6 separate regions of the Homo sapiens genome follow, and regions 1, 2, 3, 4 and 5 are each reported to be linked to region 6. Evidence: microRNA targets listed by miRTarBase, many of them from high-throughput screens and not tested one by one. Region 6 holds a microRNA gene; each other region holds the end of a gene's coding sequence.

What was found. The annotated mature microRNA hsa-miR-30c-5p reads UGUAAACAUCCUACACUCUCAGC and lies in region 6 at 1,305-1,327, shown strand. An mRNA with a match to its seed (bases 2 to 7 or 8) in the 3' UTR can be bound and repressed. Matches are read on the target gene's strand: a 7mer-m8 pairs with bases 2 to 8, a 7mer-A1 pairs with bases 2 to 7 and ends in A, and an 8mer does both.
Region 1: the mRNA of HUS1 is a reported target of hsa-miR-30c-5p. The part of its 3' UTR that is shown has no 7-base or 8-base seed match.
Region 2: miRTarBase lists PLSCR1 as a target of hsa-miR-30c-5p. The part of its 3' UTR that is shown has no 7-base or 8-base seed match.
Region 3: the mRNA of MTCH2 is a reported target of hsa-miR-30c-5p. Seed matches in the 3' UTR shown: 7mer-m8 at 3,134-3,140.
Region 4: miRTarBase lists SOCS3 as a target of hsa-miR-30c-5p. Seed matches in the 3' UTR shown: 8mer at 1,819-1,826.
Region 5: the mRNA of CUL2 is a reported target of hsa-miR-30c-5p. Seed matches in the 3' UTR shown: 8mer at 1,038-1,045.

The regions. Positions count from the first base shown.
Region 1 is chr7:47,961,139-47,966,212 of GRCh38, forward strand. It overlaps HUS1 (HUS1 checkpoint clamp component), which reads right to left. Exons shown (of 8, transcript NM_004507.4): 8 at 2,150-4,300. The coding sequence ends at 4,218. Among named protein-coding and RNA genes, the nearest start is that of PKD1L1, 15 kb to the left of the region's middle.
Region 2 is chr3:146,511,696-146,516,769 of GRCh38, forward strand. It overlaps PLSCR1 (phospholipid scramblase 1), which reads right to left. Exons shown (of 9, transcript NM_021105.3): 9 at 3,485-4,406. The coding sequence ends at 4,350. Among named protein-coding and RNA genes, the nearest start is that of PLSCR1, 30 kb to the right of the region's middle. RefSeq lists an enhancer at 2,457-2,958.
Region 3 is chr11:47,614,563-47,619,636 of GRCh38, forward strand. MTCH2 (mitochondrial carrier 2) reads right to left here. Exons shown (of 13, transcript NM_014342.4): 13 at 2,755-4,357. The coding sequence ends at 4,271. Among named protein-coding and RNA genes, the nearest start is that of C1QTNF4, 23 kb to the left of the region's middle. RefSeq lists a silencer at 2,991-3,050.
Region 4 is chr17:78,353,751-78,358,811 of GRCh38, reverse strand. SOCS3 (suppressor of cytokine signaling 3) reads left to right here. Exons shown (of 2, transcript NM_003955.5): 2 at 1-2,034. The coding sequence ends at 394. Among named protein-coding and RNA genes, the nearest start is that of SOCS3, 3.8 kb to the left of the region's middle. RefSeq lists enhancers at 1,326-1,975, 2,033-2,532, 3,358-3,407, 3,731-4,232 and a silencer at 2,111-2,298.
Region 5 is chr10:35,006,154-35,011,227 of GRCh38, reverse strand. It overlaps CUL2 (cullin 2), which reads left to right. Exons shown (of 21, transcript NM_003591.4): 21 at 786-2,677. The coding sequence ends at 917. LOC124902409 (a long non-coding RNA gene) reads left to right here and starts at 4,630. Exons shown (of 2, transcript XR_007062110.1): 1 at 4,630-5,074.
Region 6 is chr1:40,755,996-40,761,069 of GRCh38, forward strand. It overlaps MIR30C1 (microRNA 30c-1), which reads left to right and starts at 1,289; the gene lies at 1,289-1,377. NFYC (nuclear transcription factor Y subunit gamma) reads left to right here. Exons shown (of 10, transcript NM_014223.5): 6 at 2,126-2,299.

The DNA.
Region 1 (5,074 bases), not on the chromosome of region 6:
TTCACTGTAGCATTATTCATTATAGCCAAGTTATGGAAGCAACCTAAGTGACCATCAAGAGATGAATGGATAAGCAAAATGGACATATACACAATGGAGTACTATTCAGCAATAAAAAAGAACAAAATCTTGTCATTTGCAACCACATGGATGAACCCCTGGAGAATATTATGTTAAGTGAAATAAGCCGGGTACAGACAGTACACGATCTCACTTATATTTAGAATCTATAAAAGCAAATCTCATAGGAGATAGTAGAATGGTGGTTACCAGATGCTTAAGTGTTTGGGGGCAGCGGGGAAGGCAGATCCTGGTCAACGATATATAGTTACAGTTAGATAAAAAGAACTGCTGGGTGTGGTGGCTCATGCCTGTGCTCCTAGCACTTTGGGAGGCCGAGGCAGGCAGATTTCTTGAGCCCAGGAGTTTGAGACCAGCCTGGGCAATGTGGCAAAACCTCATCTCTACAAAAAATACAAAAATTAGTTGGGCGCAGTGGCACACACCTGTGGTTCCAGCTACTTGAGAGGGTGAGGCAGGAGGATTGGTTGAGCCCAGGAGTTTGAGACTGCAGTGAGCCATAATTGTACTACTACACTCCAGCCTGGGGCACAGAGCCAGACCCTGTCTCCCCCAAGAAAAAAAAAAGAGCTAAAAACCAGAATAGGCAAATATATAGAGACAGATATTAGACAAGTAATTGCCTGGGGCCAGGAGGTATATGGTGGGGGAGAGCAGAATAAGGGAGAAGAGAAAAATGAAAAATGATTACTTATGGTTAAGAAGTTTCTTTACTGGGTGATGAAAATGTTCTAAAATTGATAGTGGTGATGGTTGTACAACTCTGAGAACATACTAAAAACCACTAGACAGTCTATTTTAAATGGTTGAATTGTGTGATATGTGAATTATATCTCAATACAGCTGTTTTAAAAAGTTCTGAATTGTTATTTCTTCAAAACGATGGATGCTTTGCTAAATTGGCAACATACACTAAGAACATGAATGTCATTAAATACCTTTGCCTAGTGGCTGAACCAGAATCCCAACCCCAGGACTACTGTTGAGGCCACATTCTAGGTCCCCAAGAGTGGGCTCCTTCACACCAGGCACAGTACCTCACTATAAACTCAGCCTACAGACCTGATGGCCAAGCAGTTCCCTGCTGGGCCAAGGAAGGGCTGGAGGAGGATGGCAGGGCCACTTGGATGCTAGCCAGGAGCAACTGGAATGGGAAATTCTTAAGTGTCTCTGATATGGCACAGAATGACCTCAAAACTCAGGTGATAAAATTCTTGGATAAAAAGAATTGCTGGGTGTGGTGGCTCACAGCTGTGATCCAAGCACTTTGGGAGGCTGAGGCGGGCAGACTGCTTAAGCCCAGGAGTCCTGGGCAACGTACAAAACCTCATATCTACAAAACAATATAAAAATTAGCTGGGCGCAGTGGCACACACCTGTAGTTCCAGCTACTTGGGAGGGTGAGGCAGGAGGACTGCTTAAGCCCAGGAGTTTGAGACTGCAGTGAGCCATGACTGTACCACTGCACTCCAGCATGGGGGACAAAGCCAGACCCTGTCTCCCTCAGGAAAAAAAAAAAAAAAGCTAAAAGCCAGAATAGGCAAATATATAGAGATAGATATTAGACAAGTAATTGCCTGGGGCTAGGAGGTATATGCTGCGGGAGAGCAGAACAAGGGAGAAGAGAAAAGATGTGCGTACCAAAAGGATGTGAGGCCCTGAGCCCAGGGCAGGTAAGGCATGGGACTGCCTTATTTTACCCTGGCATTTAGGACAGTACTCCACAAACCACAAATTCTTATAAATCACAGCCAGTGAAAGTATGCTCAAAATCCAGAAAGCTCTTTTAAAAAAGGTCTCAACACTTTGAGATGTTAGTCTTGAAATAAGTTAATGTTTCAAATTATATTCATTCCTTTAAATGGATTAAATTGCTATTTCTTGACCCGGCAAAATTTTACCTTGGTAGATCATTCAATAAAGCAGCACTGTGCCCTTCTCTAAGTCTGTGGTGTTGTACCGGCTCCTGCCATCATTTTTCACAGCTCTTTGAGGAGCAAAGAGGTGGAGGACTTGGTAGACACTAAGTAGCAAGTTGTGATAAGAATCAGAAACAGACACCAACTTCTTGAATCTCAACTAAGGTTTCTTTAGCCACATTCTACACAAAGATAAAATCTTAAGCCATTCATTAAAATCTTCAAAATTATATGTATTTGATAATAAACATCACATAGAGCAAATGGTTAAGTCACTAACACATTCTCTTTAACAGCAATTTCAGTTTTATAAAACTACTTTCAGATATTGTTTCATTTTGTATCATGATTTTTAAGTTTTCTCACTGCAGCTGGAATTAATTTCGTTACAATGAGAGGAGGAAGGGTTTAAAAATTAAAACGGTGTCTTCTAATTTTAAAATGTTAATTTAACAAAATATTCCATCCTATTTCAACATTATTAAACATAGGCCAGGCGTGGTGGCTCACGCCTGTAATCCCAGCACTTTGAGAGGCCAAGGTGGGTGATCACGAGGTCGAGATCGAGACCATCCTGGCCAACACAGTGAAACTCCGTCTCTACTAAAAATACAAAAATTAGCCGGGCGTGGTGGCATGCGCCTGTAGTCCCAGCTACTCGGGAGGCTGAGGCAGGAGAATCGCTTGAACTTGGGAAGTGGAGGCTGCAGTAAGCCAAGATCGCGCCACTAGCACTCCAGACTGGCGACAGAGTGAGACTCCGTCTCAAAAAAAAAAACCAAAAAACAAACAAAAAACCATTACTAAACATCAAAAGAATCATTCAAATACACTGGTTTTATCAAAAAACATGAAAAAGCCAAAATATAAATTTTCATGTTAGCTAGTCTTCCAATTTCATTTTATCCTAAGCAACTTAGGTCTCAGTTTTGTAATGTGACATTAATATAATGTTTATGGATGGGTGTGATGGCTGATGCCTGTAATCCCAGCACTTTGGGAGGCCCAGGTGGGCGGGTGGCTTGAGCCCAGGAGTTCAAGACCAGCCTGGACAACACAGTGAGACCCTGTCTCTATGAAAAATTGAAAATTAGCTGGGTGTGGTGGTGCACACCAGTAGTCCCAGCTAGTCAGGAAGCTGAGGTGGGAGGATGCCTTGAGCCAAGGAGGTCAATGCGGTGAGCCATGATTGTGGCACTGCACTCCAGTCTGGGTGACAGAATGAGACCGTCTCAAACAAAACAAAACAAGAAAACAAAAGATAATGTTTATCATGTCCACCTCCACAGGACAATGAGATGTAATTATAATAGGAAATATGATGGGTATGTTTCAGGGAGAATGAGCACATCTACCAGTACTGAATCAGCTTTGATGTTCAGAAACATCAAAGAAATATGGTCTCATCACTTAACACAGATGATACCTTAGAAGTTTCGTTTGTTTCTACTCTAAATAGAAGGGTCTTCTTTCCAGAACGACAGATCCGATACACTGTGGAAGAAAGAAATATAAGGAATTACAACCTAAACCCAAAACTGGCCCCAGGAAGAAACTAGTTGGAATGGCAGAAGGAGCTCCCAGCTAAGAGCTGTGTTGGCTGGGCCAGCTCTCTAGGCATCAAGAGGGGAGTGGACTCAGGTGGGCTTGAGTCCTCAGCAAGAGAGAGACTCCAAATGCTGCAGCTGTGACACCCCACAGTGCTCTGAGTAACCAAGGCAGTGGCGGCGGGGTGACAGAGGCTGTTCTTTCTGTCACTGGGCTCCAAGGGGCAGGAGCAGCGGGGTGAACACACTGAAATGCAAGACTGACTGTGCGCTACAGGCCGTGCTGAGCTAGAGCCTCTGCCTGGAGGGAAAGTACCAAGCTCCCAGGCAACAGCTTTACGAATTCTGGCTACTACACCAAGTCTAAATACATGACGATTTTCACAACATCAATGAGAAATTGTTCTTTAAAGTCTGAATAAATAAATTCTAGCTTTTCTTTTCAGTGTCTTAAAAACAAAGCAAAACAGACATGAGCAACATGAAGTGATATGTTTATCCAACTGTGTGTTGTTGAATCAACTTTTAGTTAAAATGTTAGAGAGGGACAAATAAGTACAGTGTGTCGATGTGCGGTGCTGTGAGGGCACAGACCAGTGATCAGAACACAACACCTGCGGCCTCTCCCATCCTGACAAAGTCTCTGCATGCCAACTCCAGCGACAGGGTGCTAGGACAGCGCAGGGATGAAATACTGAAGGGACACGTCTTCATGAAGCAGATCAAAATGCACCATCTTGTTATTCACAATATCTGGGAAGAGAAAAGCCATGATTTTAGAGACCTAGTGCAGCACACACATTTTGATCTCTACTTTTTCAGAACAGCCTTCCCAGCCTGCACCTCCTGTTTTAGGCATCTGTCTTCCCTGAGGCAGCTGCAGAGACCACAGTCTCTCACTCTCACTGCCACAGCTGAGGCTACATCACGGCCCCAGCACTGGCGGCTCCCTGTGCGAGGAGAGGAAAAGTGAAGCGGCCCAAGCCCTTGGCAAAACACCCAGCAGGCTGGCTTCCTGGCAAACCACATTCACCCACATGAGCATCCTTCTGCAGCGAAGAGCAGCTCCTCACCAGTGAGTGGAGGAACTGTGCTGAGAAGAGCCAAGAGCCAGGATCCCCCAACACCTGGGGCAGGCTGTGTCACACACTGCTACATGGGATGGATCCCTGCATCTCAACGGTCCTGCCAATCCCGTGAGGGCCATGGGTGATGGCTAAAATCCAAGGCATCAGGCATGCAACCAAGCAGGGAAGTAAAGAGCACATGAGGGTGGGCAGGAGCACACAGTGTGACAACCACCGAGAGCTCGGGGAGCTGCAGCACAGCAGCCGAGGAAAGCTCTCCAGCAGATATGAGTGAGTGACAAGAAACCATGTGTGAGCAGGCTGCAGAGAGGCCAATCCCAGGAGATGGGAGGTTGGGGAAAGGACCAGAAAGGACAAGCAGGAGACAAACATTCTTTAGGAGAGGTGGTGCAAGGGCACAGGAGAGGCAGAGACTGAGGGTGGCAGGACCTAGCTAGAG
Region 2 (5,074 bases), not on the chromosome of region 6:
ATGTGTGTGGAGGGTTGTTAAGTGCAGAGCTCTGTGACCAGTTGTACTTGTTCCTTATCATTCCATGGCCCTCTCAGTTTGTAAATCATGAGTTCAGACTCTGTATTGTCAGTTGTTTCATCTGGTTTCAGGGGCCCAGATTATTGTTCCTCTCTCTCTCTCTTTTCTTTTTCTTGAGAAGCAGTTTCACTCTTGTCACCCAGGCTGGAGTGCAATGGTGCAATCTCGGCTCATTGCAACCTCCGCCTCCCAGGTTCAATCAATTCTCCTGCCTCATCCTTCCCAGTAGCTGGGATTACAGATGCCTGCCACCATGCCCAGCTAATTTTTGTATTTTTAATAGAAACAGGGTTTCACCATTTTGGCCAGGCTGGTCTTGAACTCCTGACCTCAGGTGATCCACCTGTCTTGGCCTCCCAAAGTGCTGGGATTACAGGCATGAGTTACTGCGCCCAGCTATTGTTCCTCTCTTAAAATAGCTTGCCACATTTTGACACTATAAAGCTAAGATTAAAAAAGGCTCTAACACAGAAGCCAGAGACTCTGTTCCTCCCTGTGCCTTAATTTCCCTTAATCTACACTTCTGTGAGATGAGCATCATTCCCTAGCTTGGCATCTTGCATGGACTTTTTTTTTTTTTTTTTTTGAGGAGATAGTATTCTTGCTAGGGTTTAAATGGATTTTGCTTGCTATTCAAATCACAATACAGAAATTTACTTTAGGCCAAATATTCTTCACTGGCTTTGAGACACTTCTCTGTGTTCTGAAAACCATTGATCTTTACCAACACATAGCCCTTTTCATTTTTTACACTGGTTCTATTGCAGGAACCTGCTCAGGTCTCTGAACCTGCATTAGAACACTGAATCTTCATACTGACCTTATGAGGTAGATAACATAATCAATTGACAACGATACTATTGACAACTAAGGGAAATTAAGGCACAAGGAGGAACACACAGCTTGAAGGAGACAGTACCAGGTGCAGGAACATGGCCCTAGAAACTCAGGCGGTGTATGCTGGGCTAGAGACAGTAAAGGAGAGAGGCAGGACATGGAGGGAAACCCTGTACACTTTTCTGGCACTTTAAGCTCTAGGAGCACTTCATTGTGCCCAGAGACATTTTAAATCATTCCATTCTTAACTGATGGCAGCGATTCTCTACAGAGGCTTTTCTAGTTACCCTAAAGTTACAGTTGTTGTTTTTGAGCCCAAATGCAATTAAAGCTTCAGTACTTATCCATAGAGTAGCTAGCTAACTTGATGCCGGGAGCCCAGACACTGACTTTCTGGCAATTTAATTGCCTGTGGCTGGTGCTTTTTGTTTTTTCCTCTCCCAGCCTTGTCTCTACTTTCACTTACACTCCCCTCACTCCTCAACCCTCCCCCAAGAGGTACATAGGAGAGGTACTGACATCCCTTAATCTTGTCTTCCTCCCCTCCCTCCCCTCCTTCTTCCTCCCTCCTTCTCCCCCTTCCTCACTGACCACCTACCTAGAACTTCCTTCCCAAGATCAAAAATATACCTCCATGCCCCATCCATTGCAGCTTTTCCTCCTGAATATTTTCCCTAGTCAGGGACACGCAGTGACTTTCCATTCACTGTTATAACTCACATGGTAGAAATAAAAAAATATGCAACATTTCCTCAAATCTCATTGAGATTACAAATTAAACTTTGAAAAACAATTCCTGGTATTTTCTTAATTAAATATCGAATTTTTCATGTGTGATTATTTTCTGTATGTAATTATGTAATGAGAAGATATTTGTCTAGTATTTAAATAGGTTCTGCAGAAGATATGTGGGGTTTTGCTCAGATCTTCTTTGCAGAGTTGAAGAAAGAAATGTTTAGATCAGTTTAGTTTCATTTTGCTTAACCAAAGATCCAGAATCCTGTTGAGAGAGAGAGAAATAATGAAAGTAAAATTTAGCTGTCACAGAGATAATGTCAGTACTCTAAGCCTTATTTTGGGTTAGTTTTGGCACATTATGGCCAGTTTGGAAATCCTATGCCCACCCTCTTCTGTAACTGGCATAACAATGCCATTGGGATTCAGCTATGCAAGTACCTCCACTTTTCTTGGCATGCCATCTGTACCAAGCACATGCTCTGAGTTCCATGGGTACACCTCATCACTGGAACTTGGCATCTGGTGAATTGTTTAGACTTGTGGGAGATCATCTAGACTTGACTTTTCCTGAAGATCTCCTGCATACTAATGTTCTCACCGCTTGCCATTTGGAGCTATTGAGGTCTAGGGCACTAACACCATGAGGAGAGCTGCTGTTACAAGAATTGTGCTGAATATGAAAGAGGGACTCTTCCACATGCCCTTATTGCTTAAGCATACTTTTCCATTGCATGAAGAATATTGTGGGTTGTTCATGTCATCTTTCAACTCAATCTTCATTACAAAAGAGATTAACTAAATTCTTATAAGCTTCTGACAGGTGGAAATCCTAGTTTCCAACACTGGTACAGATTTTACTACAAAGTGTCATGTACCTTTGCTCATTTTTAAAGGAGATTTGAAAGGAAAAGTCAGTTAAATATGATGGAGACAGGAGGCAGAGAAATTCTAGGTAGAAAAGGGTGAGTCCCCAGTGAAAACCCTACCCTCAAGCTGAAATGCCTGAAACCCCGGCCCAAAGTGAGAATTTATATCCCTGTTTTCCTACTTGAATGTTGCCTTTTCCTAAACTGCCCATGGCCCGCCCTGCCTGCAATCCTGTGCCTATAAAGACCCAAGACTCAGTCAGAGAGGAGTGGAGACTATGGCTGGACATTGGAGAGAAGCAGCTTGACTTCAGAGGGACAGCTTGACAGTGTAACTTCAGAGAAGAATCCAGCTGGACAGGGCCAGACTTCAGGGGAAGATCACCTACCCCACTGTCCCCTTTTCAGCTCCCTTTCTCACTGAGAGCCACTTTCATCAGCAATAAAATCCCCCTCATTTACCATCCTTCAGTTTGTTTTTGTGACCACATTTTTCCTGGACACCGGACAAGAGCCTGGGAGCCATGAGTGCCGATATAAAAGGCTCTCACATTCGCCATTTGCCCTTGCTGGTGGAGGGCAGCTGTCCCACATGACAAGGCAAAGGGCCCACTGAGCTGTTAACACTTAAGCCGTCCACAGACAGCAGAGCTAAAAGAGCACTGTTAACACATCTTCTGGGGCTTCAGGAATCGCAGGCAACCCCACCTGGATGCTACCACAGGGCCTGCACAGTTTGTTCCTGCCCATGCCAAAGCGGCCAGCCAGTTCCAGTGCTTGTACACTCCAGTTCCTGCCTTGTTTGCCTGTGCACTCCCTCCCAGGAGGAGTTGAGAATGGCAGGCTGAGTAAACAAGGCACCCCTGTCTCGAGTCCTGTGAAGGGGTCAGGGAAATATCCTGCTTCAAATGTACCATCATTTAACTGAATGAGTGCTCAAAATACCATCTGAACACATTTCGTTTAAAAACAAAAATCAAATATACAAAAAAATCAAGTTTTTATTTCAAATATTTGAATCTAATAGATCATTATTTAGGTTTATACTCTGTGAATATATATATGATATTGTATTTAATTAATATCTGAGTAATCTCAATTACCATTTTCTAGGAAGGATAGAGTGTAAGAGCTAAACATTTCATGTAGAAATATTAACTTTCAAAAGTTATAATACCAGAGTTTTAGAGTGAAGGAGTATTTAAAATGTGTCTTTCTTTGGGAGAGAATCATTTTGTTCTTTACTAACAATAATTTGAAAATTGGTAATTTAATATCTTGTGAATATGAAAATATTATGGTATAGATTAGCTTCTAGGAGAAGTTAAGTGTAGCATGATTTCTTGAAGATTAAAAAAACATTTAACTTTTTAAAGATAATATGCATATTGAATATTATTTGAACATAATAGTAAAGAAAATTATCTTTGAGCTTTTTTGAATATATGGCATTTGCAAAATAACATTAGCTCTTATGCATGAAATAAATTGTAACTAGATTTAATAGGACAAGATATAATTTATATAAAAATTAATAAGGCCTTAGTTAATATTTGGTAGTAAAATGGACAATGAATCAGAGATCATAATTCAAAGCAGTTTTTCAAAGGAAGTTTCATTAATAAATGCAAAAACTCATATGTCCTTTTTCTCAAATTGACAATGAGTATTAAAAAATGTACAAAAACCTTTATAAATCAGTTATACAGAAGATAAACTATAATTTGAAAAGCAAAAGTATACAACCAGAGCTACAGGCCTTACAGCTTAATTCATACAGGTATGAGTTTAGATAGTCTCAATCAATATACAGACTTCAGATTTCCTGAGGAGACTTTCACTAATCCACTACCACACTCCTGATTTTTGTTCCTGGCTGCCAGTGCTTTCAAAAAACATGAAGTCCTAGATAAAAACAAAAGTATACAAATGAATTTTCAACAACAAAACAGAGATCAATTATCAGATGCAGAAATACTAAGGGATCTAGTGAAACACAGTAACAAATCTGTTAAAAAAATTAAATGTAATAAGTAAATATACAAAAGCTCTATAATTATATAAGTTCTGCCTTTGGCTTTCCATTTTAATAATAAATTCTATAATTCTATTCATTTATTGATACCTGTATGAATTTAATTAATCTTCCAGTCATTTTCTCTAAATGTTACTTTTTCTCTATCCCCATAATTCTCATCTTTGGCTGCATACTGGAATCACCTGGAACACTATATGAACTTCGAAGTTTCTGATTTAGTTGAACTGAGGTATGGACTAGTCCTTGGAGTTTTTAAAGTCCCTAGGTGGTTCTAATGTGAAGGCAATTTCAGAATCACTGGTATATCCAATTATTTCCTGTAATTTGGTAGTTAGGTCTACACACTTGAGTGAATGTACACTCTTATTGTACTTCATACTCCTATATTAGATGGTTTAATTTAATTACTATGAGTCATGGTAAAGTTTCCTTGTTTCACTAAATTTTTTCCACATATGCCTACTTTCAACTTCTTCCTCAAAGCATCTAGGAGATGCCTGATTTAAGGGGAGACTAAAATCTCTCCTTAGTACAT
Region 3 (5,074 bases), not on the chromosome of region 6:
TTGAGGCAATTCTCCTGCCTCAGCCTCTTTTTTTTCTTTGAGACAGTCTTGCTCTGTTGCCCAGGCCGGAGTACGTTGGCGCAACCTTGGCTCACTGCAACCTCCACCTCCTGGGTTTCAGCGATTCTCCTGCTTCAGTCTCCTAAGTAGCTGGAATTATAGGCATGCGCCTCCATACCTAATTTTTGTAATTTTAGTAGAGATGGGGTTTCACCATGTTAGCCAGGCTGGTCTCGAACTCCTGGCCTCAAGTGATCTGCCCACCTCGGCCTCCCAAAGTTCTGGGATTACAGGCGTGAGCCACCGCACCCAGTCTTTTATTTTAATATACATTTTAAAGGCTAAGTGAAGCAGTGGAAAGGGAGAAGGAAAAAAAAATCTGTTAACTGGTTGTGATCAACTAGTTGCAATACTGCTGCACTTAGACCAGCCACGACCCCACTAGCTTTTCTATAAAGCCCAGTGAGGCTTTTTTTTTTTTTTTTTTTTTTTTTTTTTTGGCTCTCAGTTGACACCTAGGCTGGAGTGCAGTGGTGCGACCATAGGTCAGTACAGCCTCAACCTCCCAGGACTCAACCAGTCGTCCCACTTCAGCCTCCTGTGTAGCTGGCACTACAGGTGCACACCACCAAGCCTGGCTAATTTTTAAATTTTTGTGTTGAGAAAAGGTCTCACTATATTATCCAAGCAGGCTGTTTTAGTTGGCCTGTTTTAAAGGACTAAATATATATTTTTCCCCCACAGATTTTCAAATCAGAGAGAAGTAATGCTCCTGCTGTATAAAACATGAACTTGGTGTTGGATGTAGTTTTTGTCAGTTAGTTTGTACTATCATTACATGCTCTGAAGGAGGGAGAGTTTGAAGGCACAGCCCTCTCACCCAGTTGGGACTCTCAGTGACTTCACAAAGAGATGGCACTAGAACTGAATCTGACAGTACAGAAACATGTCACTGGCAAGAGGGGGAGGACATTTCTAGAATAGGAAATTATAGTTAAGTCAAGGTATGCTGAGGTAACAGAGATGATGGAATATAGGGCTTATGTTGAATGTTTCTTTCATCCTAAGGTTGCTTTTTTTTTTTTTTGAGACAGAGTTTCACTCTTGTTGACCAGGCGGGAGTGCAGTGGGGCAATCTCAGCTCACTGCAACCTCCACCTTCCGATTTCAAGCGATTCTCCTGCCTCAGCCTCCTGAGTAGCTGGGATTACAGGTGCCCGCCACCACGCCTAATTTTTGTATTAGTAGAGACAGGGTTTCACCATGTTGGTCAGGCTGGTCTCAAATTCCTGACCTCATGATCCACCCGCCTCGGCCTCCCAAATTGCTGGGATTACTAAGGTTGCTTTTTTACCCTAGTATTTTTATAATGATCCCCCAAAGTTCCAGGAAACCCATACCTTCTTTATTTTTAAGATGCAGTTTCACTCTTGTTGCCTAGGCTGGAGTGCAATGGCACGATCTCAGCTTACCGCAACCTCCGCTTCCTGGGTTCAAGCGATTCTCATGCCTCAGCCTCCCAAGTAGCTGGGATTACAGGCATGTGCCACCACGCCCAGCTAATTTTCCTCCCTTTATTTCTTTAAAAAATAGAGACAGGGTTTTACCATGTTGCCCGGGCTGGTCTTGAGCTCCTGGACTCAAGTGATCCACTGCCCCCAGCCCACCCCACACTCTTCTTAAGTCAAGGTTTCAATGGTCACCACATACTCTAGAGGAACAGTTTGTGGCAACTTAGCTTGGTACCACAAAGGAAAACCAGTTTCACAAGTGGCTTACTAGAGAACCCCTACTTTTCTTTTTCTTTTTTTTAAGAGACAGAGTCTCACTCTGTCACCCAGTGGCACAATCTTGGGTCACTGCAACCTCCAGCTCCCAGGTTCAAGCGATTCTCCTGCCTCAGCCTCCTGAACTACAGGTGCGTGCCACCATGCCCGACTAATTTTTTTGTATTTTTAGTAGATATATTGGCCAGGCTGGTCTCCAACTCTTGGCCTCAAGTGATCCACCTGCCTCAGCCTCCCAAAGTGTTAGGATTACAGGTATGGGCCACCACAACCAGCCTAAGTTCATATTACTTACTGAGTTCATTATTTCTTGCATGTGTTTCTTTTTTTTTCTTTTTTTTTTTTTTAAGAGATGGGAGTTTCACTCTTGTTGCCCAGGCTGGAGTGCAATGGCGTGATCTCAGTTCATTGCAACCTCCACCTCCTGGGTTTCAAGAGATTCTCCTGCCTCAGCCTCCCGCATAGCTGGGATTACAGGCATGTGCCACCATGCCCGGCTAATTTTGTTATTTTTAGTAGAGACAGGGTTTCTTCATGTTGGTCAGGATGGTCTCGAATTCTCGACCTCAGGTGAACCACCTGCCTCGGCCTCCCAAAGTGCTGTGATTGCAGGCATGAGCCATTGCGCCCGGTCGCATGTGTTTCTTAATGGCACCTACCTGCATTTCCTAGCCCCTGAATATCTTTAGACTTTTATGTTAGTAGCTTATAGTAAGATATTATGGAGGATCATAGGTATAGGACTCTGACTAGACCTCTAGCTTGGATGCAGCAAGACTGAAACAGCTGGACTAGTATTTTGAGCAATCCTAGGCCTTGGAGAAATTTCTCAGCCACCCAACTTGCACAGGAAAAACTGAAGCCTTGGCGTCCTCTGGTGGTAGACTGGTTATCAGAGTCAGACATGCTTCTCAACTAGGAATAGGCAAGCATGAAAGTTCACAGAAGCCACAGGATAAACATGGCACATTTTCCCAGATCATCTTTACTTAAAGATTTTTTGGGAGAAAAAGGTAGGCAGCAAACATTTTTATATTAAAACAAATGCAGATAGTAATATTGAAATAGTATATAAAATTGACATTACTTTTTGAGACAAAGGAAGAGACATCAAAGACATTTTAAGCCGAGCTCCTCATGAGCTTCCTAAACCCCAGGGGAGGGAAGAGACCCCTGCATTCTCGTTCTGTCTAATATTATCAGTGGGGCTGTTTTGACAGAGAAGTCTCAGAAGCAGCGAATTAAGTGCTTACTCATTTGGCAATGTCCCAGTGAGTTATATAAATAAGTGAAACCACAGGCTTTCTCATTTTAGAGCATTTTAACCTGCTTTTTAGAAGGCCTGAGTAAACAGAAGCTTTATGCTTGAGTTGAATTTTATTTTCTCCCAAAGTGATTTTTTTCCTCCTATAAATGTTAACATGCTTAACTGAGGGTATGGCATGTGAGGTGGTCAGTGTCCTAAGACCCATGTCGACTTGGGTTGGCATTACCAGACATGGAGTTACAAATATACTTTCCAAGGCTGTCATCAGAAATGCAAAACTACTCACCTTCGGCAACAATAACAAAAAGGAAACAAAACAAAAAACTGAAGAACAAAAGATTATATATAATTAGAACTGTATGGTGTAATTTAAGCACTGGCAAATACTTGGCTCTTAAAGAAGGGGGTTACTCCTGCAGGATCTGCTTTTCATATTTTATGTGAAAACAAGAACTTCCTTTGAGGAAAAAAGTGCCATTATACTTCCTTTCCAAATCTTGCTTATTTTCTGTAATTGTCTTTTTCTTTGTTGTTGCTGACCCTTTATCTTATTTATTTTTTTTCAGGTAGCCTCTTGAACTAGAGTAGGCTCAGAGGCTCCCTGTAGGTGACATTTTATTACTTTGCAATAACAGACTGAAGGGGCAGATCCTCACACAGACTTTCTAGGGTAATGTAGCAATGTACTGTCCTTTTCTTGAAGTATGAGAGACAAGGTCAATGAAATGTGCTTAGAAGCATAATGGGAGTCAGATTCTGGTGCATGCTACTGACATTTTAGGGTCTACCCAAGAAAAAGTAATTCATAACCTCCCATATAGTTTAATTTAGTGATTTTGTTAAGTTTTACAAAATTATTTCTCATTTTTCTTGGAATTCTACTCTTCATTTTACAAAGCCTTAAATTGAGACTCAAAAATCACATGACAAAGTGCCTGTAGCTTCAGGAAAATACAACTTTTTTTCCCTTCTGGTTAAGTAAAATAAGAATTTGGAGCAAAAATATCCTAATTCAGAATAACTAAAGGGGGAGTATCAGTGGTAAGTTATGTTGTGCTGGAAAAAAGAACAAAAAAGGCAGACACCAAACACCTGAATTTTCCCAAGATTAAATGATTATTAAAAAAGCGCGCCACACTGTATAGAAATCAACATTCTCTCCCATAATTCTGTGCATCTGGGACTACAGAAATGTCACTGTCCCTGCCCCACATCTTCAAATTAACATTTTCAGGTCACAACAATAAGTCTTCCCAAAGGGGACCTTCCGGAAAAATAAGCTATTTCCTCGGCTCATATTCCCCTGGAAAACAAAACAAAACAAAACACAAATAATATCTAGCGAGATGAGATCAGCCAATCCAAATCAGCAGAGAGGTCCAATTGGGAGACGTGACTAAATCTAGGACAAAACTGGGACTATCACTACAGAACAAGGATTAGTATTCTCTGAAAGGCTGAGCTACTATGAACTAACTACAATTTCTCCTTATTAAGTTCTTACTCTGGGCAGACAGAACGCCCAGGTTGGATTCTGGCTTTGCCACTTTCCAGCTGGCTTAGCAAATGAGTCATGTAGAACAGTGCCTAACATTCAGTAAGTGCTAGCTTTCATTTATTTCTTTGTTTTTCTTTTTTGAGATGGAGTCTCGCTCTGTTGCCCAGGCTGTAGTGCAGTGGTGCAATCTCGGCTCACTGCAACCTCTGCCTCCCAGGTTCAAGCGATTCTCCTGCCTCAGCCTCCTAAGTAGCTGGGAAAGGAACGCGCCACCGTGCCTGGCTAATTTTTGTACTTTTAGTGGAGGTGGGGTTTCACCATATTGGCCAGGCTGGTCTCAAACTCCTGACCTCAAGTGATCCGCCTATCTTGGCCTCCCAAAAGTGCAGGGATTACGGGTGTGATCCACCATACCCGGCCTATTTATTTCTTAATGAAATGAAATCATGTTTCTAAGGACTACTTATAAAATCTTATAATCAAAGTAATAACAACCTGGACAACATAGTAAGACCCCATCTC
Region 4 (5,061 bases), not on the chromosome of region 6:
CCAGTGTGAGGGGGGCAGCTTCTCTCTGCAGAGCGATCCCCGGAGCACGCAGCCCGTGCCCCGCTTCGACTGCGTGCTCAAGCTGGTGCACCACTACATGCCGCCCCCTGGAGCCCCCTCCTTCCCCTCGCCACCTACTGAACCCTCCTCCGAGGTGCCCGAGCAGCCGTCTGCCCAGCCACTCCCTGGGAGTCCCCCCAGAAGAGCCTATTACATCTACTCCGGGGGCGAGAAGATCCCCCTGGTGTTGAGCCGGCCCCTCTCCTCCAACGTGGCCACTCTTCAGCATCTCTGTCGGAAGACCGTCAACGGCCACCTGGACTCCTATGAGAAAGTCACCCAGCTGCCGGGGCCCATTCGGGAGTTCCTGGACCAGTACGATGCCCCGCTTTAAGGGGTAAAGGGCGCAAAGGGCATGGGTCGGGAGAGGGGACGCAGGCCCCTCTCCTCCGTGGCACATGGCACAAGCACAAGAAGCCAACCAGGAGAGAGTCCTGTAGCTCTGGGGGGAAAGAGGGCGGACAGGCCCCTCCCTCTGCCCTCTCCCTGCAGAATGTGGCAGGCGGACCTGGAATGTGTTGGAGGGAAGGGGGAGTACCACCTGAGTCTCCAGCTTCTCCGGAGGAGCCAGCTGTCCTGGTGGGACGATAGCAACCACAAGTGGATTCTCCTTCAATTCCTCAGCTTCCCCTCTGCCTCCAAACAGGGGACACTTCGGGAATGCTGAACTAATGAGAACTGCCAGGGAATCTTCAAACTTTCCAACGGAACTTGTTTGCTCTTTGATTTGGTTTAAACCTGAGCTGGTTGTGGAGCCTGGGAAAGGTGGAAGAGAGAGAGGTCCTGAGGGCCCCAGGGCTGCGGGCTGGCGAAGGAAATGGTCACACCCCCCGCCCACCCCAGGCGAGGATCCTGGTGACATGCTCCTCTCCCTGGCTCCGGGGAGAAGGGCTTGGGGTGACCTGAAGGGAACCATCCTGGTACCCCACATCCTCTCCTCCGGGACAGTCACCGAAAACACAGGTTCCAAAGTCTACCTGGTGCCTGAGAGCCCAGGGCCCTTCCTCCGTTTTAAGGGGGAAGCAACATTTGGAGGGGATGGATGGGCTGGTCAGCTGGTCTCCTTTTCCTACTCATACTATACCTTCCTGTACCTGGGTGGATGGAGCGGGAGGATGGAGGAGACGGGACATCTTTCACCTCAGGCTCCTGGTAGAGAAGACAGGGGATTCTACTCTGTGCCTCCTGACTATGTCTGGCTAAGAGATTCGCCTTAAATGCTCCCTGTCCCATGGAGAGGGACCCAGCATAGGAAAGCCACATACTCAGCCTGGATGGGTGGAGAGGCTGAGGGACTCACTGGAGGGCACCAAGCCAGCCCACAGCCAGGGAAGTGGGGAGGGGGGGCGGAAACCCATGCCTCCCAGCTGAGCACTGGGAATGTCAGCCCAGTAAGTATTGGCCAGTCAGGCGCCTCGTGGTCAGAGCAGAGCCACCAGGTCCCACTGCCCCGAGCCCTGCACAGCCCTCCCTCCTGCCTGGGTGGGGGAGGCTGGAGGTCATTGGAGAGGCTGGACTGCTGCCACCCCGGGTGCTCCCGCTCTGCCATAGCACTGATCAGTGACAATTTACAGGAATGTAGCAGCGATGGAATTACCTGGAACAGTTTTTTGTTTTTGTTTTTGTTTTTGTTTTTGTGGGGGGGGGCAACTAAACAAACACAAAGTATTCTGTGTCAGGTATTGGGCTGGACAGGGCAGTTGTGTGTTGGGGTGGTTTTTTTCTCTATTTTTTTGTTTGTTTCTTGTTTTTTAATAATGTTTACAATCTGCCTCAATCACTCTGTCTTTTATAAAGATTCCACCTCCAGTCCTCTCTCCTCCCCCCTACTCAGGCCCTTGAGGCTATTAGGAGATGCTTGAAGAACTCAACAAAATCCCAATCCAAGTCAAACTTTGCACATATTTATATTTATATTCAGAAAAGAAACATTTCAGTAATTTATAATAAAGAGCACTATTTTTTAATGAAAAACATGACTTGAGCCTTTTCTGCACCCCTGCCCCCCCGCCCCCCGCCCCGTGCCTTGCTTTCTCTTTCACCCACACCCACACTCTGCATCGGAGAGGAGGAAGAGAGCCGCAGAGGGTGGAATCGAATACGTCTCAGCCTTACGTCAGCACGCCTGCCTCGTGTGTCACTGACAAGCTAAGGCAGCCACCTAGACTTACCGAGAGGGGTAATTCCTGCAAGTCTGATTCAGATCTGACCAGAATATGCAAAGCAAGTTCGAAGGAAGCGCTTCAAAGGGCTTGCAGGGAGCAAGCTGAGCTGTGGTCAAAGCTTTTAGAGGCTCCAGGCTATTAGAGGCGCTCTGGTTCCTTGGCAGGGAGTCGTTCCGAGAAAGCCCAGACATGGGGTCCTAGTGGTGACCTATGACCTCAGTCTAGCCAGGTTCACTGGAAGTGGGGGGAGGGGTGGTCCTGAAGCAAATCTTGCATGCAGGTGGAGCCCCACCCCCTCCCCCACCACAGGACCCCAGGCATTCAGGGGCTTCCTGGCCACTGCTCCCCATGCCTGCTTCCCTTCCCCGTTCCTAGGGGCCCCAACCTGAGCAGCGGACAGGATCACCCTCCTCCCAAAAAGCACCCATCTATTCATCTCTCTCTTTTTTTGAAACAGGGTTCGCTATGTTGCCCAGGCTGGTCTCCAGCTCCCGGGCTGAAGGTATCCTCCCCTCAGCCCATCTATTTTTAGTCACTCTCATTTAAACACTAAGGGGCACTTAGAGGTTACCTGGATTAAGCATCCCACCTGCTCCCACAAGGCAGGCATTCTCATCCCCATGTTCTCAGACATGGCCACGTGCCCCATGTGAGCCAGGACTTGGACTGGTCACTTCTGGTGCCTAGATTGGTGCTCAGTAAATATTTGTCAACTAAGTAGGGGCAGCAACTCAGGTTCAGGGAGGTTAAGCAACCTGGCCAAGGGCACACCACTTGGGAATATGGGGAAAACAGGATTGGAACCCAGGAGCATTTGATTTCCAAAGCCCATGCCTCTCTGCCTCTCTATACACTCAGCATATACCTGCCCCCGGAGTGAGTCCCTCCTTAAAAGCCAAGAGGTTAGTACCCTTCCCCCCAACTCTGGGGTTTCAGCACTAGGGTTCTTCTAATAGCAAAAAACGTCTTCTCTCCTGTAATCCAGCACTTTGGGAGGTCGAGGTGGGCTAAGGGCTGGAGCCCAGAAGTTCAAGACCAGCCTGGGCAATATAGCGAGACCCTGTCTCCATTTAAAAAACAGAAACCAAAAACAAAAACAAAACCACCTTCTCTGAGGTATTCTCCTTTCATGCCTCCTTCTCTGATCCCCGTGACCTGACAGCTGGGAAATGAGTGTTAACCCCAAGTCAGGGGCCCTTATCTCTCTCAGATGACACAAATACCAGAGCCTCTTCCTGGCCCCCTTGCACCCAATATACTGCTCCAGGAATCGGGGTCCAAAAGGCAACAGAGAGTAAATAAACAAAGTCGTTTTTCTTTCCTATTTCCTGGGACTTTTGGAGAAAATGACCTGAAGTGACGAGAAGGGGCCAGGCCAGGCACGAGGCGGCTGAGGGGACAGAGCATATGGGAGCCACACCACAGGCATCATGAAGGAACTCCAGACTGGCAATGTAAACCCAGGTAGGGCCACCTTCCCAAAGCACAAGTGCAGGTGAGGGGGCCCAGTGGGGTGTGGCTCCCCAGTGCCTTCCAGAAGGATGATGAGTCTTCCTCGCCCTGGGGTCTGCTGGTCAGCCACCACTGCCTTCAGCTGCACAGAGTTCCCCTTTCACTGGAATAACAGCCATGAGGGAACCGTGAACCTGGGGTCCTTGTACTTTTTTGTTTTTTGAGACAGGGTCTCACTCTGTCACCCAGGTTGGAGTGCAGTGGCGCTATTATAGCTCACTGCAGGTTTGAACTCCCGGGTTTGGGTAAACCTCCCACGTCTGGGTAATCCTCCCACGTCAGCCTCCTGAGTAGCTGGGACTACAGGCACATTATCACCACGGCCAGTTATTTTTAATTTTTAATTTTTTTTTTGTATATTTCGTAGAGACAGGGTCTCGCCATGTTGCCCAGGCTGGTCTCGAACTCCTGAACTCAAGCAATCTGCCAGCCTCAGCCTCCCAAAGTGCTGGGATTACAGGCATGAGCCACTGTGCCCAGCCACTGGGTCCCTGTGCTTGACCCAGAAGGCAGCTGTTTAGCCAGGTTGTCCAGTGTTCACAGAATGCTAGCAAAAGAATTTGATCTTCTCTGGCCAGGGAGGAAGTAGTTCTCCCTGCCCACCCCAGGGAGGTTGAAACTTGGTTTTGTGGAGTTGCAAAGGCAAGAAGACTCATTTCCCTCCTCCAGACCACTGCCCATCCCAACCTTCCTCTGTCTTTCCACTTCTTCTTCTTCTTCTTTTTTTTTTTTTTTTTTTCAGATAGGGTCTAGCTCTGTCACCCAGGCTGGAGTGCAGTGGCAGGATCACAACTCACTGCAGCCTCAACTGCCAGAATACAAGCGATCCTCCCACCTCAGCCTCTTGAGTAGGTGGGACTACAGGCACACACCACCACACCTGGCTAAATTTTGTACTACTTGTAGAGATGGGATCTTGCTATGTTGCCCAGGCTGGTCTCTAACTCCCAAGCTCAAGCAATCCGCCCACCTCGTCCTCTTAAAGCGCTGGGATTTCATGCGTGAGCCACCGCGCCTGGTGTGTCTTTCCATTTCAGATCAGACTGGACCAACCCTTTGGGTTTGCAGACAAGGAAACCGAGACCCAGAGAAGGGAAGCAACATGCTCAAGCCCACACAACAAGCTGCTGGGAAGGCCAGGAAAGAATCTCTCCCCCAGATGACTCTGCTCAGCACCGGCTCCCTTCTCTCCTCATCCCATACCCCATAACAGAAGTCTTTCTGCACTTCTCAATCCTCAGAAGGGAAGACACCCTCCTCTAAGGGACTTAGTCGGGGGCCCTCTGGCCTGGCTGGGGGAGGAGGGGTATTCCTGGCTCCCAGA
Region 5 (5,074 bases), not on the chromosome of region 6:
AAAAAAAAAAAAAAAATTAAAAAATTAAAAAATTAGCCAGTTGTGGCGGCACACTTGTAGTACCAACTACTTGGGAGGCTGAGGCGGGAGGATTGCTTGAGCCCAGGGATTGAGCCTGTGTGACACAGTGAGATGCTATCTCAAATGATAATAATAAATTCATATTTGCTTTGGCTTTATTTTAGAGGTCTAAAACTTGCTGATTCATTGAGTCTTCTGTCCAGTTATTGAAGGAAATTGACCCATCAGATATTCATTCATTCCATAACTATCTGAGCCTACCATGTGATAGACAGCTGGGCTGGTCCCTGGGATATAGCACAGAGCAGCTGAAGATATGGCAGGCTTTTTTGGAGTTCACAGTTTAATGGGGGAAGAAATACACTATTGAAATGATATGCAAATAAATGTAAAATTACATTAGCATGCACTGAAGGAAACGTATACAGTACTATGAGAATGTATTTAAATATCCTGGCCTAGGGGCTGCTGGGGAAAACTTTCTTGAGAAAGTGTTTGAACTAAGAGCTGAGAGTTGAGTTAAATAGAAGCTTGGGGTTGTGTGTGAGTACTTAGGTTAATTAGTTTATTGTTTCACTTAATTATGTATCATTATTAGATTTTGCTGTATCCATTTTCCACATTGTAGTTCCTATTTTCATACTTAATTTGGCCCATTTGTTGAAACCTCAGTACATTTGAGGCACTTTAAACTGATTGGTTAAAAGTCATTACTTAATAGCTGAAGAACTGGCAGTAGTTTGACTTCCACATCTCTTCCACAGGTGATTAGCCAGTCAAGAGCTAGGTTTAATCCCAGTATCAGCATGATTAAGAAGTGTATTGAAGTTCTGATAGACAAACAATACATAGAACGCAGCCAGGCGTCGGCAGATGAATACAGCTACGTCGCGTGATGTCGCTCTCCTCCAGCGTGGTGTGAGAAGATCATTGCCATCACCATTTGGTGTGTTCCTGTGGGAAAAAGCAGGACTGTGCCTCCATAATTTGGTCATTTGGCAGCCCCTGTTTTCTGCTGTTTACAACATCACCAGTGCCACGTCATGAGCGTCAAAGAAAATGCCTAGAGATATTTCAAGCTCATGTCATTATGACATTTCTTAAAACTTTATTAAAAGAATGAGTGAAGTATTGCTGAAAAGTGGAAATTCGGTTGGGTACCATGCTTTTTCTCCCCTTCACGTTTGCAGTTGATGTGTCTTTTTTTTTTTTTTTAATGTATCTTAAAGGACATAAAATTTAAAAACTTAAATATTGTAATATGACAGATAACCTAATAATTGTATCTACATTAAAATGACAAACATGATACTGCTGCTTGTCAAATAAAAAAAAAATAAAGAAATAGAATGCCTTTTTTATGTGGATGGAGTATCAGGTTGACCACAAAATATATTGACTCAAAGCAGCTAATGCATCTTTAGTTGCGTTTTTATCTGAATGGTTTAATTCACTTGTACTCCTATTTAAATCCTACATGAAAAATGTCTAGATTATTGTTCTTGACTGCATAGGACTGCATTCAGCATAAAGAATGCTTTATTTTTATGGATTAGATATATTGGATCTAAACATTTTGAATCTTGAAGATGTAATTCCATCAGCAGTTTCTGGTGGTGTGCTACTCCACAGACATCGCAGAGTGTGAGCAGGATGCTTGGTGACCTCAAGTCTGGCACAGAGAGAGCTTTTCATTCAAAAGTTGTCTTTCTTCGGTTGCATAATCCATTAATTCTAGCATAGACTAGTACCCTAGCTCTGTGGCCTTCCCTGAGTCTTAGGAAATCTATGATACCAACATATTCCTTCTATATGCCTCCCCTACCTGTTACCCTTACAACCCTCCTCCAACAGTTTAGATACTAGAGTCACTCTCATCAATCACAGATGTGCTTAGCAATGCATAACCTAAATACTTTTTTAAAAAAGAAAATTGTACATTGTACTGGGTGCCACATATATAAATCCCATTATTTTGTTTATTTTATATATATATATATATATAATATATATATATATATATCTCAACAGCAGTGTTAAGAGTACTGCGATCTATTATCATATTTATTGTCTATCCACACCATCACCACCACCACCACACCCCTCCTCCCTCAACATACAATTTTTCTTTATTTTAAAAAAAATAAGAGACGGGGTTTCGCCATGTTTCCCAGGCTAGTCTGGAACTTCTGGCCTCAAGCAATCCTATCTCTGTCTCCCAAAGTGCTGGGATTACAAGCATGAGCCACTGCATCCATCCAACACAAAATTTTTAAAATCGGAATATTTTAAAGCAAATCACACAAATTATTTCACTTATAATACTTCAGTAAGGCCTTTAAAAAATCCACAGTGATATTATTACTCCTAACAAAAACAATAATTACTTAGTATCATCTAATATGTGGTTCATATTTAAATTTGTTGTTTTGAGATGGGTCTTACAATTGGTTTATTCAATTGCATTTTTTCTAACTCGTGTCTCAAGTGTTTTAAAAATCTACTGAACTTATAATGACTTATATAATGTATTTCTCATTTTACCTTTCTTCCAAAAGAGGAAATAATGGCAAACCATATAATATTGTACATTCACTGTCAAAAAGCAAACCCTTGTTTTGATAACTTGTTGATTGATAAAAGTTTTCCAAATTGATTCCTTTTTTTCTTAAATATTTATAAATGTTAAATTAAGTCTTATCCTGGTATCTAATTGTCAAGAAAATATACTGAAAAATGGACAAAATACTTGTGCGGAGGTCTACAGAGATGGCTTACAAGAGTTTTCTTCACATCCTTTCTCCATTTTATCTGAAAGGAAACATCTCTCGCATGAGGAAGAGAGGCCAAATCTGTTCAACCAAGGCACCATTCAGAAAGGGAGCAATGTTTGGAATTCATTGCAGCGCACACCTTCCCCTGCAGAGAGTGCTGGGAAGAGTTGCAGTCTTGTCAAGTTAGGTCAGGAGATTGAAGTCATCACTGCAGAAGCTGTAGCACACAGCCCAGAGCTCTGACCTGGCCGCCCTGCTGTGCAGTAACTAGTGCGAGTGGGCAAAACAGCTCAGAGCTATGAAAAGGAAAAAGGAGCAAGGAGAGGAGGATTTTCTATGCTTCACTGCAGAAAACACAAGTAAGCAAAACCCTCAGAAGTTTTTTAGAAGTCATTAATACTAAGGTAGTTTACGTATGTGAGTCAGTGATGCATTTTATAGCCAGCCAGCATGAGGCCTTGTCCACATGCCAGTCCTTTCCCTTTGAAAGCAAATATTTAATTGCTACTGAAGGTGCAGACTTATTTTAAGGTTTAGTCCAATATTTTATGACCATTTGCTTTAATATAAACAAGCACTCTGGGGGTTGTGTGTTTGTTTTGTTGTTTTAAGACAGGGTCTCGCTCTGTCACCCAGGCTGGAGTGCAGTGGTGCAATCACGGCGCACTGCAACCTCGACCTGCCAGGCTCAAGTGATCCTCCCACCTCAGCCTCCCAAGTAGCTGGGACCACAGGCACATGCCATCACACTCGGCTAATCTTTGTATTTTTTGTAGAGACGAGGTTTTGCCATGTTGCCCAGGCTGGTCTCAAACTCCTGAGCTCAAGCAATCCACCTGCCTCGGCCTCCCAAAGTGCTGGGATTAGAGGTGTGAGCCACTATGCTTTATTTTCTTTATAACTTACTATCTTTTTAGGATTTTGTAACCTATGTACGCTACCATGCTATCCCATGTCTGTTCACTTTTTTAAAAAACCTTTTTGAGTATAAATGATGACAGGTGCTTCCACCTATGTTATTTTGTTTAATCTTCAGGTAATCCTGTTTGATAGGCAATGCTTCTCTTTTTCATAGGTGAGGAAACTAAATGAGACTTTTCCAGGAGTTACTGTTGTAAACTGCAGAACCTGAATTTAAATGCCAGTCAAATCCATGGATGTTATAAGTATGGCCTCTCTGTATAGGTATATAGCCTCTAAAATAAGTAGAAATAACTTCATTTCATACATAAAGAATAGTTTTTCCTGACCTTTTAGAATAACAATTTGTTTCTAGTTAAATAATGTATGATAAACACATCATATTTTTCTTAAGATACTTAAGATGATGTAAACACGGTTAAGGAATTTGTCTTGGCACATAGCTGATTCATGACAAAGCGTATTTGTGAATTTAGTGTTTTACATTCACATGTACTATTACAGAACATTTATTTCACAGTGTATATATACTTAAAAGTTGTTATCAGTTAATTTTGTTGAGCTATGTACTAGAAAAGGATAATTATTCACCTCTTGATTTTTGGTTCCAAGAATAAATTCTTGGTCGAGCAAGGTCAAAGTCAAGATGCGAACTTTAAAAATACTAGTCCTTGGCTGGGCACGGTGGCTCACGCCTGTAATCCCAGCACTTTGGGAGGCTGAGGTGGGTGGATCACCTGAGGTCAGGAGTTCAAGACCTGCCTGACCAACATGGAGAAACCCTGTCTCTACTAAAAATACAAAAAATTAGCCAGCCATGGTGGCATGCGCCTGTAGTCCCAGCTACTTGGGAGGCTGAGGCAGGAGAATTGCTTGAACCCAGGAGGCATAGGTTGCAGTGAGCCAAGATCGAGCCATTGCACTCCAGCCTGGGCGACAAGAGCAAAACTCGGTCTCAAAAAAATAAATAAATAAAAATACTAGTCCTAAGGTCTGTTGCAGATGGGCGATAGCGAAATGAGTGGAAATTAATATGGAGAGACCCACTAGTAGAAGATTGCTGTGTTCTTGAAGCGTATCAAGGCCAAAGCAATTAAATTAGGCAATCCTTTGAAATATATGGCCCCATAGGCTAGAATTCATTAAAGGTAGGATTTACTGATGGGGAAGAATGATAATTTTCATAAGGAATGGCTGTGCTACCTATGAAATTGTAAGAGATTTTTTTTTCTTCCACTGGCCCCTATCCACAACCCAGGAAATTCCTCTTCGTTTTATCATCTAGCAAACAGGTACTGGTGCCAGGGCATTACGCTGGGTACAAGATATGCGGTGATGAGCAGAAAAGATGCTGTCTG
Region 6 (5,074 bases):
CTCCCTGCTGCCTAGCTTCCTACACAGCTGGTTCTGAGGCTCTCATTCCTGTATACCCTCTCATTACCCAAGAGCTTTTCCAAGTTAGGTCTGGATTTCAGTGATTTGTGCTTTTTGTAAAATAATAAGGGAGATCTCAGTGGAACACAAGTACCTTGAACCTACTTCAATAGCTTTGCAAAGAGCAGTTGGCTTCTGTTTCTTGGCTGCAAAAGGTATCAGTATTTTAGCTTTGCCACAGCCAATACCTAGTTTCCAGGCTGACATTTATTTATAATGATGATAAGTTGGGGTTGAAATTGTTGTGGAAATTGAGACCTAGATGAAAATAAAAGGGAATCTCCTTTTCCTTCTGCCTTAGCATAATCATATTGAGGGTTAAAACTATTTGTGTCTGAAGCACAGACTATATCAACCTAAAAAGTCAGTTCATATATTAACTTAGAAACCCAGAATGTTACAGGTATCTCCCTAAGCTGGGTAGATGGCTGTCAAGTAACCATGTCATGCAGAGACCCATGTTTCTCAGGGGTAGATACTGGCAGTCCTAGTTTTAGTATCCTAGCCCCCAGACATCAGGCAAACAAAGGATACTCAGCTCTGTTCCACAGGGGACACTAGCTGCTTCCTCACACTGTGGCCACAGAGTCTTAGAGGTACCAAAAGAGAGTTTAGAGACTACTTTTTTCTATTGGTAACAGCTGTTGGGTTTAAGAGAATTTGTCATATCAGCAAGTTGGATTCAGAGAACTACTTTCCTGCCTCTAACTGTCTGCCTGTCTAAATCCATTCATCATTCATCACGCACTTACTGAGTGCCTACCTGGGAACGCGGGGGATAGCAGAGAGCAAGAGAGAGCTAGGCTTTGCCCTCATGGTGCTTAACATTTTAGTAGAACAGACAGTTAATTTGACATGCAAGTGCAAAAATGTATACTGTGAGGACAGTACTTTGGAAGCACAGTTGAGGGCACCTAACATAGTGTGGGGATGGGGTCAATACCAGCTTTGTAAATGTTACTTTGGGGAGTTGGAGGCAATCCACAGGGTCTGTGTACATCTAAGAAGTGTCTTTTCCTCTTTTCTGGAACGTGGCAAACTTTGCCCTGAATAAGGACATGAGTAAATTTAGCTAATATTTTTACTCAGCCAGCCCAAGTGGTTCTGTGTTTTTATTGTTTTTGTTGTCCCAGGCAGGGGCACCATGTGTCACACAGGTCACTCCGGATCAGACGCCGTTCTGTGTCAGTGGTCAGGGGCTGATCAACCCTGGACCCTGTGGGCTATAACCATGCTGTAGTGTGTGTAAACATCCTACACTCTCAGCTGTGAGCTCAAGGTGGCTGGGAGAGGGTTGTTTACTCCTTCTGCCATGGAAAACATCAGCTGAAGAAGGAACAGTCTCCACTCCGCAGATCGGACAGAATGCGACCTCCCTAATCAGCCAAGGCAGTACCCCAGCGGAGAGCTGTCCATCAGGCCCCCTGGGTTGCGCTTCTGTGGCTAAGTACAACCAGAACCAGATGTGACACTGGATAGACATGCCCTCAGTGACCACAGAGCTTTCAACAAGCTGTGAAAAGCTGGGTACTTGCCTACCAGTGCTCTCGATCCTGAAATTTCAGCTCAGGAAAAGCCCTGTTTCCCATTAACCTGTTCTGTCCCCCTTGAAGTGGTGGGGCTAAAACGAGAAGAGTGCTGCCTATTTGGGAGATTGGGACCAGGCCTGAGAGGCATGATGTTTGGGTAGCATCTTCCCAACACTTGCAATTAGCACTGTTCTCAGATCACAGGCCTTGACAGCATTTACTGACAAGCACTGCTGGTGTGTGGTTTTTAGTTACGGTACTTATTTGCCCGTTTGCAACTTATCATGCAATGGGTGATTATTTCGTACTTCAGAAATTGGCTGTATGTTTTGTGAAGCCTATAGGATCTGTTATTTTTAGTTTGATTTAGCATAACTGGTCTCTTTGAATTCCACTTTCCTTTGGCTTCAAATGTGGAGAGCTCAGCATTCAGCAGGCAACTGCACATAGCCTGTTTGGGGGAAGAGTGGAAATTCACTGTGGCGGCTGCTGAGTTGGTTCTTTTCCTCTTACCTGCCTCTCTTTCCACCCAACAGGAGGAGGTGCGCCAGTCTGTAACTCCTGCCGAGCCAGTCCAGTACTATTTCACGCTGGCTCAGCAACCCACCGCTGTCCAAGTCCAGGGCCAGCAGCAAGGCCAGCAGACCACCAGCTCCACGACCACCATCCAGCCTGGGCAGATCATCATCGCACAGCCTCAGCAGGGCCAGGTCTGTGAGCTGCTGAGGATGCCCATCCAGCAAGACAGTGCCCCTTAGGTTTTTGGATGGGCAGAGCTTGATGAGGGCAGAGAGGCAGCCAGATCATTATAGAGCACTGGATTTAAAGTCTGGAAACTGGAACTTTTCCCCAGATTCAGCTACTGGGGTGAGATGTTACCCTAATCTCTCTGGACCCTGTTTTTCTCAAAGGTCAAATGAGGAAAGTGTACTAGACAGTATGTTCTCCAGGATCCCTATTAGCTCAGAAATTTTAGAAGGGAAAAAAAAATGTCTGAAATGCCTTATGAAGAGTAGAGGTGCTAAAGTGAACTCCATGCCTGCTGTCTGTGTGTCTGTGTGAGAAGTGGAATTTGTGCCCTTAAAGGGAGAGATTAGGTATCATTGCCAAGTTGCATACTCCTTCTCCCCGTCATTTCTCTGTCCCATATTTGTGTTAAGTGACCTTCTCTTTTTACGATAGTAATCAGAGGACTCTTTCTCTCCCCAGTAGTAGTGTTAAGAGCAGTAGCATTCATGTTTGTTGGGGGTCATGTGAGGCTGCAGAGAACTCTGTACTATGAGCTCTGAATCCAAATTCTCTGTCAATCATTATTTATTCATCAAACACTGAGCATCCTCTGAGGGTAAAGTTCTGTGCTATGTATTGGGGATACAAGCATGAATAAAACAGTCCTTATTTTCAAGGAATTCACAATTTAGTTGGGGATACAAATACTTAAAGGTTGTACCACCACGTGGGAATGTGTACAGGGTGTTAAAGGAACACATTAAAAGAAGTACCTTGGCTCAGCGCAGTGGCTCATGCCTGTAATCCCAACACTTTGGGAGGCCAATGTGGGAGGAACCCAGGAGTTTGAGGTTACAGTGAGGTAGGATCATGCCACTGCACTTCAGCCTGGGCAGCACAGCAAGACCTCTTCTTTAATTAAAAAAAAAAAAAAAAGGCAGGGGCATGTGGTGGCTCATGTCTGTAATTCCAGCACTTTGGGAGGCCGAGGCAGGAGGATTGCTTGAGCCCACGTGTTCAAGACCAGCCTGGGCAACATGGTGAGACCTTGTCTCCACCAGAACATCAGAACATTAGCCAGCCATGGTGGCATGCTCTTATGGCCCCAGCTACTTAAGAGGCTGAGTTGGGAGGATCGCTTGAGCCAAGGAGGTCAAGGCTACAGTGAGCTGTGATTGTGCCATTGCACTCCAGCCAGGGTGACAGAGCAAGATCCTGTCTCAAAAAAAAAACAAAAAAAAGTATATGTGTGTGTGTGTGTGTATGTGTGTGTGTATTATATATGTGTGTATATATATGTATATGTGTGTGTATGTATGTAGGGGAGGGGATGAGTAGCTGAGAAAGATGTGAACGAGGTGGTCAGATAATGTTTCTGAAGGGAATAATATGAGTCTTGGGGAACAGTGGAAATTAATCAAAGAAAGTGGGAAAGGGTGGTATTGCCAGTAGAGGGCACAGCACAGGCAAAGGCTCAGAGGTGAGAAACAGTACAGGGGGCCGTAGGAAAGTAGTCAGCGTAGGGGACCATCTACGCAAGTTTGGAAAGATAGATAGTAAACACATCCTGGACAGCCTCGTATATTCTAATAAGGAGCTGAGTTTGCCTAGAAGAAAAAAAAATGGAGTAGAGGTAGATTGATTGATTGATGTTTTTTTAAAGATAAGTTCTCACTTCGTCACTCAGGCTGGAGTGTAGTAGCACAATCATAGCTTACTGCAGCTTCAAACTACTGGGCTCAAGCAGTCCTTCTGCCTCAGCCTCCCGAGGAGCTGGGACTCCCAGGCATGTGCCACCACACCTGGATAATTTTTAATTTTTTTGTGGAGATGGGGTCTCATTATGTTTCCCAGGCTGGTCTCAAACTCCTGGCTTTATGCCATCCTCCCACCTTGGCCTCCCACAGTGGTGGGATGACAGGCATGAGCCACCATGCCCAGTTAGGAGGTAGATTTAAGTAATTATGATTTGGCCAGGTGCGGTGGCTCACACCTATAATCCCATCACTTTGGGAGGCCAAAGCAGGAGGGTCGCATGGGCCCGGGAGTTGGAGACCAGCCTGGGCAATATGGCAAGACCTTGTCTCAAAAACAAACACACAGAGAATTAAAAATAAGTAATTATGGCTGGGCGTAGTGGCTCACACCTGTAATCCCAGTACTTTGGGAGGCCGAGGTGGGCGGATCACAAAGCCAGGAGTTCAAGACCAGCCTGGCCAATATGGTGAAACCCCATCTCTACTAAAAATACAAAAATTAGCCGGGCGTGGTGGCGGGCGCCTATAGTCCCAGCTACCCGGGGAGGCTGAGGCAGGAGAATCTCTTGAACCTGGGAGGCGGATGTTGCAGTAAGCTGAGATCGTGCCACTGCACTCCAATCTGGGTGACAGAGCGAGACTGTCTCAAAAAAAAAAAAAGGTAATTATGATTTTAGGATTTATTCTCTGCTCATTTTACTTATCCATATAACAAAAATGTATTGAGTGCTTGTTCTATGCCAGACACTGTGCTAGGCAGGAGGGTTCAAAGATAATGGCTGCTCAGTCACTGGCTCAAGGCCTCGACTGTATCATGATGCCTAAGGGACCTTCTTTGGCTAATGCTTGTGCCTCTGCAGTGGTGAAAACTTTACCTGCCAAAGGCTTTATCCCTTTACAGAATGAACTTAGAGGGAGTCTGCCAAGGGCAGGCTCTGATTGGCTGATCATCCTAAGAAGCTCATGGCTGTTGTGCCCTGACAGCAGGGCACACCATAC